Homo sapiens: one gene and its partner. The protein of the gene in region 2 purifies or fractionates together with the protein of the main gene of each other region. This does not show direct contact. Each region holds a gene or a part of one and is shown on either strand. Other genes may lie near its edges.

Region 1 (3,500 bases), on a different chromosome or scaffold from region 2:
TAGGAGGGGCCAGAGTCCGCCCACTGCTCCCACTGAGCCAGCTTCCAGAGGAGAAAACCACCCTCCCGACTGGACCCGCTGGCCAAGATCTGGAGAGGCCAACCAGGAGGAACGAAGTCCGTGCCCCAGCTTCCTTTTCCCCGGTGGGAAAGGAAAACGGAAGAAAAGGAGGCTCCAAGCGCCACAAGAGGGCGCAGCCCTGACAGCAGGAGCTGGGGGCTCATCCGATGCTCAAGATTCAAAGCCGGGCGCGGTGGCTCACGCCTGTAATCCCAGCACTTTGAGGCCGAGGCAGGTGGATCATTTGAGGTCAGGAGTTCAAGACCAGCCTAGCCAACATGGTGAAACCCCGTCTCTACCAAAAAATTTACAAAAATGGCCAGGCATGGTGGCTCACACCTGTAATCCCGGCACTTTGGGAGGCCAAGGTGGGCGGATCACGAGGTCAGGAGATCGAGACCATCCTGGCTAACACGGTGAAACCGCGTCTCCACTAAAACTACAAAAAATTAGCCGGGCATGGTGGCAGGCGCCTGAAAGCTGAGGCAGGAGAATGGCGTGAATCAGGAGGCGGAGCTTGTGGTGAGCTGAGATCGTGCCACTGCACTCCAGCCTAGGCGACAGAGCAAGACTCTTGTCTCAAAAAAAAAAAATTTACAAAAAAAAAAATTAGCTGGGTGTGGCAGTGGGCGCTTGTAATCCCAGCTACTCAGGAGGCTGAGGCAGGAGAAACGCTTGAACCCAAGAGACAGAGGTGAGCAAACATTCTACCACTGCACTCCAGCCTGGGTGACAAGTGAGACCTTGTCTCAAAAAAAAAAAAAAAAAAAAAAAAAAAAAAAGATTCAAGGCCGGGCGCAGTGGCTCACGCCTGTAATCCCAGCACTTTGGGAGGCCAAGGCAAGCGGATCACCTGAGGTCAGAAGTTGGAGACCAGCCTGGCCAACATAGTGAAACCACATCTCCACTAAAAATACAAAAATTAGCCGGGTGTGGTGGCATGCGCCTGTAATCCCAGCTTCTCGGGAGGCTGAGGCAGGAGAATCACTTGAACCAGGAGGCAGAGGTTGCAGTGAGCCAAGACTGCACCACTGCACTCCAGCCTGGGCAACAGAGTGAGACTCTCTCTCAAAAATAAATAAATAAATAAATAAATAACAAATAAAAAGTATATAAAGATTCAAGTAACCCATGACCCCAGTGGCAGGGCTGAGACCTGGGAGCCGACACCTGGGAGTCAGACTTCCAGGGTTCCAGGCTGCTTCCCGTCTACGACGCCTGAGCCGAGCCCCACAGTGCCCAAGACTGTGAGATGTGGGCCGAGAAGCCAGGAAGCCCCCACCAGGCTGCGGGGAGGCCAGGCCAGTGCACACACCGGGAGCAAGGCCAGAGCCACAGGGCCCCACCTGGGGGATACACATGACCGTTTGTCAGCACCCATGAGAAGGCGGGTGGTGGCAGCCCACGCGTGTGCATGCGTGTGCCTGTGATCTTGGCTCTTGGAAACAGCCAGGAAATCTAACCCTGACCAAGAGCTGTACTGGTGGGTGTGGGGTCAGAGCCAGGCACCAACCTGACGCAGGGGCCCGAGGAGGGGCAGCCCTCCTGCAGCGGAGGACGGACGCCCCTCATCCAGCTTCACAAGGGGCCTCATGCCTGCTTCGCTTCAGTCTCAGAACCCCAGGAGGTAGACAGCACCTCAGCGCCTGATTGACTGGAGGGGAAACTGAGGCACGGAGAGGACAAGCTGCCTCCCTGAAGTCACACGACCCCTAATGGCAGGGCCTGAAGAGACTTCGGTCTCCTGGCTCCGCAGCTTATCCCCGGCAGGCAGCCCAGGACGTGCTCTTCTGCTCCAGCACGCACCCTCAGGCAGGGAGGCAAGAAGACAAGGGGGCGCCCTGAGAGAGGAAGTGCACCCGGCTCACCCCGCTGCTGAGGCTCAAGAAAGAGCTGCCCCGAAACTCACTACCCCAGGTGGGGCATGACAGCCAGGGGCAGCGATGGCAGGACAGCCTCTGGACTGGAACCCAATCCCATCTCCACAGCAGCAGAGTCCCCAGGTGCCTCAAAGGTGCAGATACTAACTGCCCCTCGCCGGTCAGGGGCCATGCCACCTTGTTCTGTTCCCACTGAGGCTTCCGTGCAGACTGGCTCCCAAGTGGGAGTGACCCCACCCCTCCACTGGAAGCGGATGGTGTCACTCACTCATGTTTTCTACGTTTTTTTTTTGTTTGTTTTGTTTTGTTTGTTTGTTTGTTTTTGAGACAGAACCTCTCCCTCGGTCGCCCAGGCTGGAGTGCAGTGGTGCAATCTCGGCTCACTGCAACCTCTGCCTCCTGGACTCAAGTGATCCTCCCACCTTAGCCACCCAGGTAGCTGGGACTACAGGTGCACATCACCAAGTCTGGCTAATTTTTTGCATTTTTAGTAGAGACAGGGGTCTCGTCATGTTGCCCAGGCTGGTCTCGAACTCCTGGACTTGAGTGATCTGCCTGACTCGGCCTCTCAAAGTACTTGGATTACAGGCATGAGCCACCGCACCTGGCCATACAAAATTTCTAAGCTCCCGTCTCCTCACGTGCTGGGTCTTCCCACAGCCATTACTGAAGCCCCCCGACAGCCTGGGAGACTGGTCCCCAGCCTTGTGCAGCCCATCTAACCCAGTTGTGGGCACTGGCCTGGACATCTCCACCTGAGGGACAGGGACAGACCCCCGCCCCTGCCCAGCTCACTGACCATCGCCAAAGAGTGTGGGATAGGATCACTGATGGGGGAAGGGCAGGAGTCCGGAGCCCAGGCCCCCTCTCCAGACATCTACCCAGGCCACCAGCAAGGGCCTGACCGGTCAACCCTCGCCGCATCCAGTGGGACTAAGGCCGAGCAAACCAGTGTGGCTGGAGAAAAGGCTGCTTCATTCATCCCACAGCGTGGACCCGGCCCCACAGTCCCTGGGGGCTGCATTCATCCCACAGCGTGGACCCAGCCCCACCACAGCCGTGGGGGCTGCACTCATCCCACAGTGTGGACCTGGCCCCACAGTCCCTGGGGATTAAGACAGGCAACAGAACAGCCACATCTCTGCAGGCCGCACAAGTCCCGCTCGGTGGCGGGGCCCAGCACCCATCAGTGTGGACACGGTTAACAATAGCAACAGACACAGCGCCCTCCAGTTTGACCACACCCTTCAGCCCCCCACCCCACTCCGTCCCTGCAGGGCCCCTGAAACATCAGGGTGACCACACAGTTTGACAGAAGAGAAAACGGAGCCTGGGCCACCGGACGGTGCGGTACCCAGAACACCAACTCCGAGGTCAGACAGGGACAGAAACCTGGGCCAGCACCGTCCCTCCTGGAGCCTCCCAGGCCTTGGGGTCCCCATGTGGACGCCATCCAGGGAGCACCACCGCCCAGGGTTACTCCGCAGCTTTTCGGTGCAAAGCAGCCAGCAGGAAGGGCAGCCACAGGGGACAAGAGGGCTCCCTCCCCGCTGTCTGCCG
Region 2 (5,372 bases):
AACTCATATAGACACTGTTAAAAGAAAGGGGAGTGGTGTCAGATAATAATGAAGTCAGGATTCAGAGATGCCAGGAAGGTCGAGCTCCAAAATATAAATGCAGAAGGTGAGGTATTTCTCAGGGGCAGGAGGGCAGCTGGAATAATGGAGGTGGCCCAAGTACATTAAACGAGGAGTGGAGAAAGGAGGAAATTAAAAGCATTGTTCCAGGGACTTCCATTGCCTCTGTACACAAAGAATAGTGTAGGTGGAAGTTCATTATAAATCAGATTTAGAACTATGTCTTGTTACTTTTCTCACTTTAGCAATAAAGCACAAGTATTCTTTTTTCTCTTTGTGAATCATTATCGTGATAGGATGTTTTCACAACCATGCATCTTTTGTTCTGTCACTCCCAACGCTTCTGAATTTCTTTAAGGGCTTTTCATTGCAATATTTGGGTGTATGGGTGAGCATATTTTTCAGAAAATAGGAACTAATGGTAAAATTTAGAATATGAGAAATAAATACATTAAGCATCATCACCTTCAACCAATATTGAATTGCAGTGTAGTATACACTCAATCTTAAGACATATTTGGACCTTAAATGAAATCAGCACTGTAACAGCAGTGAGCTCTGCATTGCCAATAAATAGTTTCCTTCTCAAACACACATGGAGAAATCCCATTTAAGAAGGTCACAGAGTCCCTTAGGACCCTAGGAGATTTCAGATGGAATGGAAGGACAAGGAGCAAGGTGTTCCAACCAATGTAACACAACACCTCAAAGGTCACGAAGGTCTCATAGGAGCATGACTGCCCTCCAGGTCTGCCTCAAGGCTGCACACTCCCCTGTGTGAACCCACTGTGAGCCAGACAAACACCAGACAGTTCCTTCATTCCACAAATATCCCCTGAGCATCAGCACCTCCCAGTGCCAGGCCTATGCTCTCCCCTAGGGAAAAAAATAATAATGATAATTATAAAGCTATAGCCCTCCAGAAGTCCTGCTCTAGTTGTAATATAAACAAGGCCTATCTACCTCCCTGCACAAGTAATATAGATCTGGCCTCTCAGTTGACACTGTCTTGCATTCTGCATCGTGCTTGAGAGCAGGCAACTCACCCTCTACATTTCCTTCATGTCTACCATATTCTTGTTCTTCCATGGTCCATGATTTCTATGAGAGGCCATGGGACAAGCCTAAATAGGAATCAGCAAAAGACAACATTTACACGTATGTCGAGAAGAAGAAAAGGTGGAGTAACAGATATAAAGAGTCTTGCTGAATGCAGAAATGTCACTTACTCGACAATGAAAAAAAGACCTTTAACACCATACCTGAATACCTGTCTTTCCACATGCATGTTTCCACGCTGACTGACTGATGTAGAATATCTTTAAAGACTATAGAGCATACATTGCCCCCTCCTTTTTTTTTTTTTTTTTTTCGGAGTATCGCTCTGTCGCCCAGGCTGGAATGCAGTGGCGCGATCTTGGCTCACTGAAACCTCTGCCTGCCTCCTGGGTTTAAGTGATTCTTCTGCCTCAGCCTCTCGAGTGGTCGGGATTACAGGTGTGCACCACCACACCCAGCTAATTTTTGTATTCTAGTAGAGACGGGGTTTCATCATATTGGCCAGGCTGGTCTTGAACTCCTGACCTCAAGTGATCCACCTGCCTTGGCTTCCCAATATGCTGGGATTACAGGCGTGAGCCACTGCGGCTGGCCTGCCCTTTTTGTCTCAAAGCAGCAATGAGGTTTTCCAATGCTCACACATCTTGCACAGTGTAGACAAAAACGGACTGTACATACACCATGAAAAAGAGCTATTTTGAAGACAATAGCTCAAAAACTGAGTTTGCAGGGATCTAAGCTTCATATGTATGAATCCTAAAAATAACAGAGATTCTTTGGAAAAGTCTATCAATCTCTTCAAACTTGTATTCATTTAGACTCTATTAAAAGCTTTTTGTTGGCCACGTTCGGTGGCTCACATCTATAATCCCAGCACTTTGGGAGGCTGAGGCGGGTGGATCATGACATCAGGAGTTTGAGACCAGCCTGACCAACATGGAGAAACCCTATCTCTACTAAAACTACAAAATTAGCTGTGCGTGGTGGCACAAGCCTGTAATCTCAGCTACTCAGGAGGCTGAGGCAGGAAAATCGCTTGAACCGGGGAGGCAGAGGTTGCGGTGAGCCGAGATTGCGCCATTGCACTCCAGCCTGGGCAAAAAGAGCAAAACTCCGTCTAAAAAAAAAAATAAAAAAATAAAAAGTTTTTTGTTGTTGTTGTTGTTACTAAAAGGACCCTGTTCGGGGACATCATGGTAGACTGGAAAGGACACTGAATTTGGCCAGAAGACGTAGTTTTAAATTCCTATTCCAGATCTACTTAGTTATGTGCCCTTCGACAAATCACAATCACTAGCCTCGATTTGCTTCTACGTGAAATGCAAAAGACAAACGCTTGCTCTTTTTCCTACCACCCGAGGTGGTCTTAATGACTGAACAGGGGTAAGCAGGGCTGCTATATAAGCATGAATGCCTGCTATTAGGACTTAGTCTGGATTTTGAATTCCAGAGGAAATATTACAGCAAAACTTCATTTTACTCAACAGTAGTACTGAAGGAGAAAACTATGTAGGATACTTAGATGATTATTATATTTAGGACTGAAAGCTGTGAAATCCTAGAACCGCAAAAGGCCATATCAGCCAGGATTTGGTGCGAGAAACAGAAATTTCTCTTGAATTTTGAAGATAAAGGGACTTAATATAAAGTAAGCACTTGACAGAAAAACTGGAAGGGTTGGAGGAGCAGGCTTTAGGTTGGCTCTCCATGAATGATCTCAGAACATAGCAGCACAGACCCTTGGGGAGAGCTATTGTATCTACCACATTCAGAAAGGTGAGAAATCAAGAAGGAACTCCCGGGGTCCAAACAAAACACCAGCTTTGTTGAAGCCAAAGAAGTGTAAGCTGCCAACAGGGAGTGGCCACTGTCACCACTGCCTCTCAGAGACACTGAAGAACTATTACAGAAAGTCCCACCTCTTTTAGCTTCTCACGTATCTGTAGAAACAACCCAAAGGATGCAGGAAATTGGCCCCTTTAATGTTTCTGCCCTCCATATCTCATATGCATGAATTTATTTGGTGGAAATATTAATTTTCAAGAAGAATGTTCGTCAAAAAGGAGTCTGGTAAATGTAGCTTTAGAAGTCCAGATTTTGTATTATAAGAAGTCCTACTAAGAGGATGTAGGAATCGATGCTATGTGAGATTCAACCATATCCAACACAGCACACCTGGGGAGGATCATGATTGGCATCTTTAACATTTTTTGACCAGATCAATTGCTGATTCGCTCTATGGTTTTCCAGCTTCATGAGCTTGTATGGCTTCTTCTATAAAATGGATTAAAATTAAATTAAATTTCCCTTACTCTTAACTATTTCATAGACAACTTCCAAAAAAAATGTTTTTTTTAATGGCAAAATAATATCTTAATCTTCTAGATATCAATGCTATATATTGATATCCATGTGACTACTTCAGGTAAATGTTTTCTTTACTAACTAATCCACTTTCTGTGATCTTGTACATTAAACGTCAATTCAGTAAAAAGAAACAGAACATTAACCAAATATTGTAAACAAAAAAAGCCCTTGAAGGCCGGGTGCGGTGGCTCACACCTGTAATCCTAGCACTTTGGGAGGCCGAGGTGGGCAGATTACCCGAGGTCAGGAGTTCCAGACCAGCCTGGCCAACATGGCAAAACCCCCGTCTCTACTAAAAATAAAAATAAAAATAAATTAGCTGGGCATGGTGGCATGTGCCTGTAATCCCAGATACTCCGGAGGCTGAGGCACGAGAATAGCTTGAACCCGGCTGCAGAGGTTGGCAGTGAGCCGAGATGGTGCCACTGCACTCTAGCCTGGGTGACAGAGCAAGACTCTGTCTCAAAAAAAAAAAAAAAAAAAAAAACCCTTGAAATAAAAGACAGATGTAGGATGCTTTTATTTCTGTTTTAATATAAATAAAATAATTTTAGTATAAATAAAAATAACTTTTTTCCAATTTTATATAATAGTTTGTTACTCAATTTATAATAATTTAGTTTCTTGATAAATGCATAGATTTAGTCAACCTCAATTAATAGGTACATGCAAACCATTTTTGGAATACAAATTGAAATAAAAATTTTGAGAATTAACACATGGTAATGATAATAAAATCGAACATTAGCTCTTAAAGAGATCAGAGGAAAACCAGAGAGACTCTTAAAGAACATAAGCATCCTTTATAATCTATTCCAATTAGTTAGTTCCTTTATATCCTATTTCAGTTAGTTAGTTACAAAAATCAATGGCTTTTTTATGGTCATATATGTAAATGACCTCAGAAATATGTCTATATTTCCTTTGCCTACTTACACATAGGGGCACAAGGCTCTGCTTAGGGGGATCAGACATAGAACAGAAAGGGAAAAGATTAGATGGAAAAGACTGTGAAATATGCCTGAGCATTTGGAATTTATGATATGATCTGAAAGGTTGCATGAACCTAATTATTAGCTCCAGTAACAAGAAGACCAATGATTTCAGTTACCAGGGGTTTGTTATTTAAGTGGAGACCCATAGCGTTAGTCAACAATTCACCAGCAATCCCCTTCCATTTTCTGCTGGCGATTCTTGTTCATGATAACATGAAACAATTCTGATAAGGAAACATTTACAGTTTACCAAATCCCACATAAAAAAGTAAAATGTTCCCATTCCATTTATATACCATTGCAGATAAATATAACTTGAAGCTATTTACTGATAGGCTAAACTTTCAAATGAAACTAATAGCCACTGCAAATTATCCTCATTCACCATAGGTGGGGAAATATTAGTGTTAAGCAAGATAAGAGAGAAAACCTATGAGAGAAAATTATATTCCAGCAACAGTACTGTACTAGTCAGCTTTGCCATGCCAATAACAGCCTGAAGGCATTACATTTCCTCTGTAAATTACTAGGGTTTTGTTGAACTGTTTGCTCCTTCAGGGCATTTACTATACCTGCTATACTTCCCAGACTTGGGACAGACAAGAACCCAATCAATGGCCATCTAAACTGACTGTAAGTCACTTTTGTTGCTGTTGTTCAAGAGGATCAGTTCAGCAATAATAAAAATGTTTTAGGCTGAAGAGGTTTTTTTTAAAGTTTTCATTCAAAGTAAAAATAGCTTATTAGATTAAAAACAAGCAAAACCAAACTATAAAGTTAGAAGTCAAGATAAGGGTTACCCTTAGAAGGGGACGTAGGGACTGGAAGAGAGCACTCAGGAATTCTGGGGCAAGTGATGCTGTTTCTTGATCTGGTACTGATGACATGGCA

Evidence for each region. Proteins that work in one complex are often made in the same cells at the same time.
Region 1: the proteins of PLCB1 (region 2) and GNA11 purify together in Homo sapiens (affinity purification with western blotting, with the first as the bait; one study listed by BioGRID). This does not show direct contact.

What each region holds. Positions count from the first base shown.
Region 1 is NC_000019.10:3,100,862-3,104,361, reverse strand, and holds part of GNA11 (guanine nucleotide-binding protein subunit alpha-11), read right to left. Parts: intron 1-3,500. UniProt on the Homo sapiens protein: Guanine nucleotide-binding proteins (G proteins) function as transducers downstream of G protein-coupled receptors (GPCRs) in numerous signaling cascades.
Region 2 is NC_000020.11:8,137,683-8,143,054, reverse strand, and holds part of PLCB1 (1-phosphatidylinositol 4,5-bisphosphate phosphodiesterase beta-1), read right to left. Parts: intron 1-5,372.